Linked DNA regions of Homo sapiens. The protein of the gene in region 1 interacts with the protein of each later gene in a pairwise test. Each region holds a gene or a part of one and is shown in the gene's direction. Other genes may lie near its edges. The genes, in order: CBX5, ZNF280C and H4C13.

The links.
Region 2: the proteins of CBX5 (region 1) and ZNF280C interact in binary tests that used the Homo sapiens proteins (3 or more experiments, as listed by UniProt).
Region 3: the proteins of CBX5 (region 1) and H4C13 interact in binary tests that used the Homo sapiens proteins (3 or more experiments, as listed by UniProt).

What each region holds. Positions count from the first base shown.
Region 1 is NC_000012.12:54,252,466-54,256,218, reverse strand, and holds part of CBX5 (chromobox protein homolog 5), read left to right. Parts: intron 1-3,753. UniProt on the Homo sapiens protein: Component of heterochromatin that recognizes and binds histone H3 tails methylated at 'Lys-9' (H3K9me), leading to epigenetic repression. In contrast, it is excluded from chromatin when 'Tyr-41' of histone H3 is phosphorylated (H3Y41ph).
Region 2 is NC_000023.11:130,206,199-130,209,951, reverse strand, and holds part of ZNF280C (zinc finger protein 280C), read left to right. Parts: intron 1-236; coding exon 237-299; intron 300-3,753. UniProt on the Homo sapiens protein: May function as a transcription factor.
Region 3 is NC_000006.12:27,872,542-27,875,807, reverse strand, and holds H4C13 (histone H4), read left to right. Parts: upstream 1-2,273; 5' UTR 2,274-2,297; coding exon 2,298-2,609; 3' UTR 2,610-2,660; downstream 2,661-3,266. UniProt on the Homo sapiens protein: Core component of nucleosome. Nucleosomes wrap and compact DNA into chromatin, limiting DNA accessibility to the cellular machineries which require DNA as a template.

The sequences.
Region 1 (3,753 bases):
AAAGTAACACCAGAAGATTTTGAAGATGTTTATTGGGCCCATTTCCACTGGAAATATTTGGGTGTTTGAAAGATACTTGAAACTCTTTCTCTGTCATTGAGCTACTGGTACCTTACCATAGATGAAAGGGGAAAAGGTAAGGTTTGGGGTAGACAAAGTAAACATTGGTCCTTTTTCAGAAATGCCCTGGATTTCATAAAAGACTGGAACAAATCAGCATTGTCTATAACTAAATGCCTACTTTGTGCTAGACAGTGATCAAATTCTACCTCTTGTGCTCTCTTCGATTCTCACAAAAGCATTTAGAGTCCAGGCATGGTGGTATGTACCCGTGGTCCCAGCTACTAGGGAGGTTGAAGTGGGAGGATTGCTTGAGTCCAGGAGTTTTGGGCTGTAGTGCACTAAACCGATCAGGTGTCTGCATTAAGTTTGGCATCAATATAGTGACCTCCCAGGAGTGAGGGACCACCAGGTTGCCTAAGTAGGAGTGAACCAGAGCAGGTCAGAACTCCCATTTTGAGCATTAGTAGGATCGTACCTGTGAATAGCCACTGCACTCCTGTCTGGTTAACATAGCAAGACCCTTGCCTCTTTCAAAACTTTAATTCTTTTTTTAATTTAAATTTTTACATATTTTTATCTTTTTTTTTTTTTTTTTTTGAGACAGAGTCTCTCACTATCGCCCACGCTGGAGCTCAGTGGCGCGATCTCAGCTCACTGCAACCTCCGCCTCCCGGGTTCAAGCGATTCTCCTGCCTCAGCCTCCCGAGTAGCTGGGATTACAGGTGCCTGCCACCACGCCCAGCTAACTTTTTGTATTTTTAGTAGAGACAGCATTTCACCATGTTGGCCAGGCTGGTCTCGAACTCCTGACCTTGTGATTCGCCCACCTCAGCCTCCCAAAGTGTTGGGATTACAGGCGTGAGCCACCACGCCCTGCTTTTTTATCTTCAAAATAGAGACAGGGTCTCACTGTGTTACCCAGGCTGGTCTCGCTCTCTTGGGTTCAAGCGATCTGCCTGCCTTGGCCTCTTGAAGTGCTGGGATTATAGGTGTGAATCACTATTCCTGGCCAACCCAGGCTCTTTTTAAATCATACTATGTTGTCTTTTGGGTGGAAACTGAAGTAGAAGCAGCAGTACCAAAGTGTTAGGAAAAGGGATAATCGCATTATAGGACTGGCTTTTCTAGCTATCAACAGATTCTTCCCAACCCCCAAGTGTATTCGGCTTGTGTAATAGTCTTGGTACACCTTTTGATATTGGTATGTTAATTTCCTCTGGGATGGTAAACTATATGGTCTGTGGGTTTTGGGGAAAGTTACTGTGTGAGGAATTTTTTTTCTTGACTTCTTTTCTTTTTTTGAGACAAGAGTTTTGCTCTTATTGCCCAGGCTGGTGTGCAATGGCGTGATCTTGGCTCACTGCAACCTCCTTCTCCCGGGTTCAAACGATTCTCCTGCCTCAGCCTCCTGAGTAGATGGGATTACAGGCGCCCGCCACCACGCCCTTCTAAATTTTGTATTTTTATTAGAGATGGGGTTTCACTGTGTTGGCCAGGATGGTCTCGACCTCCTGACCTCAGGTGATCCACCTGCTTCTGCTTCCCAAAGTGCTGGGATTAGAGACTTGAGCCACCGTGCCCGGCCGAGGAATTTTTTTTCTGCTGAGAGAAGGGATATAAAGGAGAAACTTTCCCATATTAGCTCAAATGATTTAGAAATAAATTTTGTCTCAATATTATGTTCCTTTTGTAGAAAGTTGTTTAGGTCAAGAGTAAATAGCTCAGATTTTTCCGTCTTTCTGCTTTCTACTTGAGTCAGGTTATTATGGCATGTGTTCAAATCATTCCCATCTAAATAAACCTTTTTTTTTTTTTTTTTTTTTTGAGATGGAGTTTCACTCTTGTTGCCCAGGCTGGAGTGCAATAGCTCGAACTCAGCTCACCACAACCTCCTGCCTCCCGGGTTCAAGTGATCCTCCCTCCTCAGCCTCCTGAGTAGCTAGGATTACAGGCAGGTGCCACCATGCCCGACTGCTTCAGCCTCCCAAAGTACTGGGATTACACGCATGAGCCACCGTGCCTGGCTGAATTTTGGGTTTTTAAATAGCTTTATCGAGGTATTATTTAAACACCATAACATTCACCCATTGAAATTGTACAATTCAGGCTAGATGCGGTGGCTCACATCCATAATTCCAGCACTTTGAGTGGCCGAAGCAGGCGGATCACTTGAGGTCAGGAGTTCGAGACCAGCCTGGCCAACATGGTGAAACCCCGTCTCTACTAAAAATACAAAAATTGGTGGCGCATGCCTGTAATCCTAGTTACCGGGGAGGCTGAGGCCGAAGAATGGCTTGAACCCAGGAGACAGGTTGCAGCGAGCCGATATCACACCACTGCACTCCAGCCTGCAAGACAGAGTGAGACTCCATCTCAAAAAAAAAAAAAATTGTACAATTCAGTGATTTTTTTTTTTTTTTTTTTTTTTGAGATGGTATCTCACTCTGTTACCCAGGTGGGAGTGCAGTGGTGCAATCACGGTTCACTGCAGCCTCAACCTTCTGGGCTCAAGGGATCCTCTCATTTCAGCCTCCCAAGTAGCTAGGACTACAGGTGCAAGCCACCATGCCTGAGTAATTTTTAAATCTTCTGTGGAGACAGGAGTCTTGCTATGTTGCTTAGGCTGGTCTTTGAACTGTTGGGCTCAAGTGATCTGCTCACCTTAGCCTCCCAAAGTGCTGAGATTACAGGCGTGAGTCACTGCGCCCAGCCCAATTAAATTATTATTATTGTTTTTTTTTGAGATAGAGTCTCAGTCTGTTGCCCAGACTGGAATGCAGTGGTGCAGTCTTGGCTCACTACAACCGCAGCCTCCCAGATTCAAGCAGTTCTCATGCCCTAGCCTCCTGCGTAGCTGGGACTGCAGGTGTGCACCACCAAGCCCAGCTAATTTTTGTATTTTTAGTGGAGACAGGGTTTTGCAATATTGACCAGGCTGGTCTCGAACTCCTGAGTGCCTCTCAAAGTGCTGGGATTACAGGCGTTAGCCACTGTGCCTGGCTCCAATTAAATGATTTGGAATAAATTTATAGAGCTATGCAACCACCACTATGATCCAGTTTCAGAACATTTTTGTGTCCCCCAAAATTCTCTTGATTCCCATTTGTAGTTAATTACAACTCCCTCCCTCAGCCCCAGGCATTCACTGATCTGCTTTTTTTTTTTTTTTTTTTTTTGAGACAGAGTCTGGCTTTTTCGCCCAGGCAGGAGTGGCACAATCTCAGCTCACTGCAACCTCCCCTTCCCGGGCTCAAGCAATTCTCCTGCCTCAGCCTCCCGAGTAGCTGGGACTACAGATGTGTACCACCACACCAAGCTAATTTTTGTAATTTTAGTAGAGACACGGTTTCACTGTGTTGGCCAGGCTGGTCTCAAACTCCTGACCTCAAGTGATCTGCCTGCCTCGGCCTCCCAGAGTGCTGGGATTACAGGTGTGAGCCACCGTGCCCGGCTGATCTGCTTTCTGTCTCTATAAATTTGTCTTTCCCAGACATTTCATGTAAATGGAATTAGTATGTAGTATCTTGTGTCTTATTTCTTTCACTTAGTATAATGTTTTTGGGGTTCTTCCAAGTTGTAGCATGTTTTAATATTTTGCTTATTGTTGTTGGATAATATTCCTTTGTATGGATATACCACATTTTGTTTTTCCATGTCACCATCCATTGATGAACATTTGAATTTGTTTTC
Region 2 (3,753 bases), on another chromosome or scaffold:
CCTCCCAAAGGCCCCACCTCTTAATGCCATCACTTTGGGGGTTAAGATTTTAACATGAATTTTGGGGTGACACAGAAATTCAGATTATAGCTTTAACCAACAGAATTTTATTATTTAGATCATGATCTTTTATTCAAAACTAAGAAATTAAGCATTGGCTTGAAATGTGGTCAGAAAATTAATATGGTGTTGTATAATAAAATTAATAAAATCTTGTTTGTCTCGTGTTTCTCCAGCTCTCATAGCAACCATCCAGGTAAACGGTTTTGTATTTTCAAGAAGCATTCAGGAACTCTCAGGTAATCATTGATCTTTTTTTTTTCTTTCAATTGAAATATTGCAGTAACTTTTTAAAACTTGATGTTGGAGTGCCTGCTTTGGAAATGATAGAGTTCTGTTTATTATGTCCTTGGACCAAAGTTGGAGGGATAGCCTATCATCTCTGACTAAACTCTGTAGTGCCAAGCATTAAGATGAAACCTTCATGTATTTGCGTTTGTAAAATAACAAAAATAAGGTTCTCCAACCATATCTGAATAGAAGTAAGTTTATGAAAATACCATAATACTTGAAATCAATATATAGCCTTCATAATTGTTAATGTTTTTAGAATTAAAGTATATAAGTTGTTTACTGTACAGAAAAAAAATTGATGAATATTTCTAAAGGCATTGATAATTACCATTGGTTACACCACACACATTTAGCTCAGAATCAACTAAACATCTGTTTTTTTACATTATTTTGTTATCTTTTGACTCCATCTTCCTTTGTTAATTATTTTGCTCATGTTGACAGATGTTTGCCAGGCACATAGTACCTGGCACATAGTAGGCACTTGGTAAATATTTGTTGAATAAGTTAATGTATATGTTGAAAATGAATTATGTGGATAATGTTGGACCAACAGCTCATAGAGGAAATTTTTATTGTATTTTTAAAACATACTCATGTTAGGCCAAGTGCAGTGGTTCACACCTGTAATCCTAGCACTTTGGGAGGCTGAGGCGGGTGGATCACCTGAGGTCAGGAGTTCGAGATCAGCCTGGCCAACATGGCGAAACCCTGTCTCTACTAAAAATACCAAAATTAGCCGGGCATGGTGGCAGGCACCTGTAATCCCAGCTACTTGGGAGGCTGAGGCAGGAGAATCGCTTGAACCCGGAGGGCAGAGGTTGCAGTGAGCCGAGATTGCACCACTTAACTCCAGCCTGTGCAAAAGAGCAAAACTCCATCTAAAAAAAAAAAAAAAAATTATGCTATTTTTAAAGCATTGAATTCGAGGAATTAGAAAAGAGTAAAATATATTAGGTGTTACCTTTACTGAAAAATGCTTATAAGAATGAAAAGAGATTTAATTCTAAAGATGAGACTTCGATTTGATTTTTACCACATTATGGTCAAGCTCAATTGTATGCTTGGTTTTTAAATTAACTGTATGATTTGAAAGATCTGAGGTGCTTTTTTTTCAACTTGAGTGGATCTCACATCTGAATAGAAAATTGATCAAATTCTGTGTATGGGTCGGGTGCAGTGGCTCACACCTGTAATCCCAGCACTTTGGGAGGCCAAGGCGGGTGGATCACTTGAGGCCAGGAGTTCAGGACCAGCCTGGCCAACATGGTGAAACCCCGTCTCTACTAAAAATACAAAAATTCGCCGGGCGTGGTGGCGCATGCCTGTCATCCCAGCTACTCAGGAGGCTGAGGCACGAGAATTGCTTGAACCTGGAAGGCGGAGGTTGCAGTGAGCCAAGATTGCGCCACTATACCCCAGCATGGGCCACAGTGAGACTCGGTCTCAAAAAATTTTTTTAAAAAAATCTGTGTATGGACATAGCATTTTGTATTTCTATAAACAATTTTTTCATAATTACTATTTTGTTAAAATGAAATATTCTTTAGCTATTTATTGTGTACCTATCATGTATAATACAGCGTAGGAAGTCCTATACAGATGACCGTGATGAAGAAGGCTTGTACCAACCTTCAAGGAATGTACAATTTATTAAAGGGGTATGGATATAAGGTGTGAACATAAATAACTACAGTAATTCAAAGAGGTTTCTAGTAAGTGCAGTGAGAGATACAGATTTCAAAGGGGAGAAAGGTTTCTACTTACAAGAAGAGGCACAAGGGCATTCTAGTTGGAAGAAATAACATGAATAAAAGTTCAGAAAGGAAAATGCAGAAACTATACACATTCTCCGGAATGACAATGAATAACTAGGAGTAAAATTTGGATGAAGCACAAAGTTCATATAGCATAGTATTATATTAAGATCAAAGTTGGCCGGGCACGGTGACTCATGCCTGTAATCCCAGCACTTTGGGCAGCTGAGGTGGGTGGATCACCTGAGGTCAGGAGTTTAAGACCAACCTGGCCAACATGGCAAAACCCCATCTCTACTAAAAATGCAAAAAAAATTAGCCGGGCATGGTGGTGTGCGCCTGTAATCGCAGCTACTCAGAGGCTGAGGCAAGAGAATCACTTGAACCCGGGAGGTGGAGGTTACAGTGAGCCGAGATCGCGCCACTGCACTCCAGCCTGGGTGACAGAGTGGGACTCCATTCCAAAAATAAAAAAAGATCAGTCTGGGGAGATAGTTTTGAACTTAGATGCAGATTGTTGAATCCTTGAAAACAAGGCTGGGGAGTTTGGGCTTAATTTTCATTTGGAAGACATTGGGGAAGCCATTGATGTTTTGAGTAGAATCAAGGGTGCTGAAGGAAGATCACTTTGGAGGAGTATACAGGATGAGTTGTAGCTGCATGAGACACATAGGCTGGTTAAGGCTATTGTAGTGGTTAAGACTTACTTAATAATGCCCTGGGCTGAGGTGGTGGGGTGGTATCACATCATATTTAAGAGCATGGGCTTCAGAATCAAAGGGCTCCATTTCCAACCTGATCCTGGCCTCAGTAGATTACTGAAACTAATTCTGTCCTCTGTAAAAAGGTAATAATTGTAGCACCTATCTCTTTGGGTTGCCATAAGATTTAGATCAGGCAATAATGTCTAAAACCCTCAGACTGGCATAGAGTAAGTACTCGATAAATCGTTAACATCATAAAACGTTTGAAATATTGAATGTTTTACGTAAGAAGAAAGTCAGAGATAACTACAAATTTGAGCCTCAGTATTAGGGAAATGGCATCATAAAAGAGACTTTCCCCCTAAATTTCATGGGGAAAGCACATGATTCCAGTTTTATGAAGATAATTTTTGATGTGCAGGAGTTCTGGCTAGGTGTAAATCCACAACAGGTTGTTAAAACTAGAGAAGTAGCCAGGCACGGTGGCTTACGCCTATAATCCCAGCACTTTGGGAGGCCGAGGCGGGTGGATCACGAGGTCAGGAGATTGAGACCATCCTGGCTAACACAGTGAAACCCTGTCTACTAAAAAATACAAAAAAATTAGCCAGGCGTGGTGGCAGGCGCCTGTAGTCCCAGCTACTTGGAAGGCTGAGGCAGGAGAATGGCATGAACCCGGGAGGCGGAGCTTGCAGTGAGCCAAGATTGTGCCACTGCACTCCAGCCTGGACAACAGAGCCAGACTCCGTCTCAAAAAAAAAAAAAAAAAAAAAAACTAAAGAAGTCAATCCAAGGTATGCACTGGTTTCCTATAGAGGTGAAATATTTAAGTTTAAAGTATCTGATGAACTTCAAAAGTATATGTATGCTTTGTTAATAAACTGATAATTACAGGATTTTAAAACCTTCACATTTCTTTTCTAATTTTATCCTCATTT
Region 3 (3,266 bases), on another chromosome or scaffold:
GTATCTGATTTAACGATTTAACATAGAAAATTTAGTAGGGACCGGATGTGGTGGCTCACACCTGTAATCCCAGCACGTCGGAAGGCCGAGGTAGGTGGATTGCTTGAGCCCAGGGGTTTGAGACCAGCCTGGACAACATGGTGGAACCCCATCTCTACAAGAAGTACAAAAATTAGCCGGGAATGGGTGGTGGCTCACACCTGTAGTCCCAGGATCTGGGGAGGCTGAGGTGGGAAGATCGCACTCCAGCCTTGGTGACAGACCAAGAGCCTGCCTCAAAAAAAAAAAAAAAAAAAAAAAAAAAAAATTTACACCTCTGAAAAACACAGATGTCAATGCTGTAGGGTACAGAAGTTGTGAGACCATAAGGGTCACAGCCTGAACTAATAACAAAAAAGAGGTTAATCGCCGGGCGCGATGGCTCACGCTTGTAATCCCACCACTTTGGGTGGCCGAGGCGGGTGGATCACCAGGTCAGGAGATAGGGACCATCCAGGCTAACACGCTGAAACCCCGTCTCTACTACAAATACAAAAAATAAGGCCGGGAGCAGTGGCTCGCGCCTGTAATCCCAGCACTTTGGGAGGCCGAAGTGGGCGGATCACGTGAGGTCAGGAGTTCGAGACCAGCCTGGCCAAAACGGCAAAACCCCGTCTCTACTAAAAATACAAAAATTAGCCGAGCGTAGTGGCGGGTGCCTTTAATCCCAGCTACTTAGGAGGCTAAGGCTGAAGAATCGCTTGAATCCGGGAGGCGGAGAATCGCTTGAACCCGTGAGGGGGAGATTGCAGTGAGCAGAGAACTCACCATTGCACTCCAGCCTGGGGTGACAAGACCAAAACTCTGTCAAAAAAAAAAAAAAAAAAAAAAAAAAAAGGAAAAAGAGGCCAGCCTAGCTCAGTGAGAAACTGATTAACTATTACAACATGAGTATGTAATGTTTTGCACATACAGTAATCATAGAGTAGTTCATAATGTACTTGCAGAGACTGATTTTTAGAATAAAATTAGATATTTGCTAAAGAGGTAAATAATCATACACATTTGAAATATAAAAGGTAAACATTACTGAGAAACGAAATCTGATAGCTGGAAGGCAGGGCAAGGCAGAGCCAGCCTAGGTCAGGAAGGTCACACAACATTTATTTGAAACTTTTTTTTGAGACGGACTCTTACTTTGTTGCCCAGGCTGGAGTGCATGGAGTGCAGGGGCTCGATCTTGGCTCACTGCAACCTCCGCCTTCTGCGTTCAAGCGATTTTCTTGCCTCAACCTCCTGAGTAGCTGGGATTATGGGCGCCCTCCACCACGCCAGGCCAATTTTCTTTATTTTTAGTAGAGAAGGGGTTTCGCCATCTTAGCCAGGCTGGTCTCGAACTCCTGACCTTGTGATCCACATGCATCGGCCTCCCTTCTGGCTGGGATTACAGGCGTGAGCCACCGCGTCCGGCCATTTGAAACTCTTTTTCTTGGAATAAAGTCATCCTCGGTCTTTTCCTCCTGCACTTTATTTGTAAATGTAAAAGACAGGGTTTCTGGGCACAGCTGATTTCCTAGTTCAACAGAAAAGAGGAACATGAGGGAGCTCAAGCGGCACCTTCACAATTCTAAGGAAATACAGGGTAAAAGCCACCTTTCTTTCTCAAACAGCTTCCTGAAGTGTTTCTAGGTGGAATGAGGAAAAAAAAATAGAAAGTTCTTGCCCCAAAAATGTGGTTGGCGAGGGAGAGAAAGGAACAGAAAGGACAGCTACAGAAAGAGTAAAATATAAGGAAAAGAATAGAGAACCAAATTTGAGAAAGGTGAGGAATCCCACCTTGGAGCTATCATCAGGCGTCGTCTTTTGCAGTCAGCCACTCCATAGGCTGATCACTTCGAGTTTGTACGGAAGCAGTTTCTACACGCTATTTCACAAATGCCCGAAACGACTGTGATTACCCCTCTAGAGATGGCGCCATTTGATTCCAGCAGCCACAAAGCACTAGAACAATCGATGCTAAGAGGTGACAGGAAAAACAGGCTGCAAAGACCCAGACAATGGAATGCAGCGGTGGTCAGCCTAAAACACTGTAGAAGGGCAAGATGAGCTGAGTAATTTTTAACTGGGCATCATTTTTAGAAACTGGAGTTTAAGTACCCCCTTTTCCATTTTTTCCTGAAGTCGTGGGCAGGGCGCAAGGTCTGTGAATCGGCCGACCGGATGCAGCTGGTGTGGAGAGTTCCCAATCAGGTCCGATTTATTACTATATAAAGTACTGCTGCGAGGCTTGCCGTGTTGCATTTTGTTTAGTACAAGACATGTCTGGGCGCGGCAAAGGCGGGAAGGGTCTGGGCAAAGGAGGCGCTAAGCGCCACCGCAAAGTTCTGCGCGACAACATTCAGGGCATCACCAAGCCCGCCATCCGACGCCTGGCACGGCGTGGAGGCGTTAAGCGCATCTCAGGCCTTATATACGAGGAGACACGCGGAGTTCTTAAAGTGTTTTTGGAGAATGTAATCCGCGATGCAGTTACCTACACGGAGCACGCCAAACGCAAGACAGTCACAGCCATGGACGTGGTTTACGCGCTCAAGCGCCAGGGCCGCACCCTGTATGGCTTTGGCGGCTGAGTGTTTTACTTACTTACACGGTTCCTCAAAGGCCCTTCTCAGGGCCACCCATGAAGTCTGTGAAAGAGCTGTAGACTAAAGATAGTTAATTTCTTAAGAACACTTAAACGTATGGCAGTTTTGGCAAATTAGCGATTCCACATAAGCAGTCGCTGAAGTTTGAGGTTCGGTGCCCCTTTCAGCATTACTTAGTGGTTAAAAGTGCCGGCTTCTCTGATACACGGCCAAATCTATAACGCCTCTCTGGTTTTTGCAAAAGTCATAATGAAACAGCCGGTCTCATTTATCTTGTATCGATTACTTTACCGCTACCAATGCGAGGGCTGTGTAACTATGACACTGTGGTCCGCAACGCCCAAAATGTTTTAATATCGCCCTTTACAGAAAAAGTCGGCCAACTTCTAAAACATTAAGTACGTTTAAATTTGAGAAATACTGGCATACCACAACGCTCGAATTTCATATCCCCTTCAATGCCTCCATTTACAAATTTACTCTAGTTTCACTTTTCCTTTACGTTCTTTAACTTTTTGTCAAATCAGTAATGACACCTCGTAATTAAAATAGTGCAAGGCAAGTTTAGATTTATCAAGCTTATATTTAAACAGGATTTTGATGCATGAAAAATCCTAGACTTTTGGGGGATTTTTTTTTGTT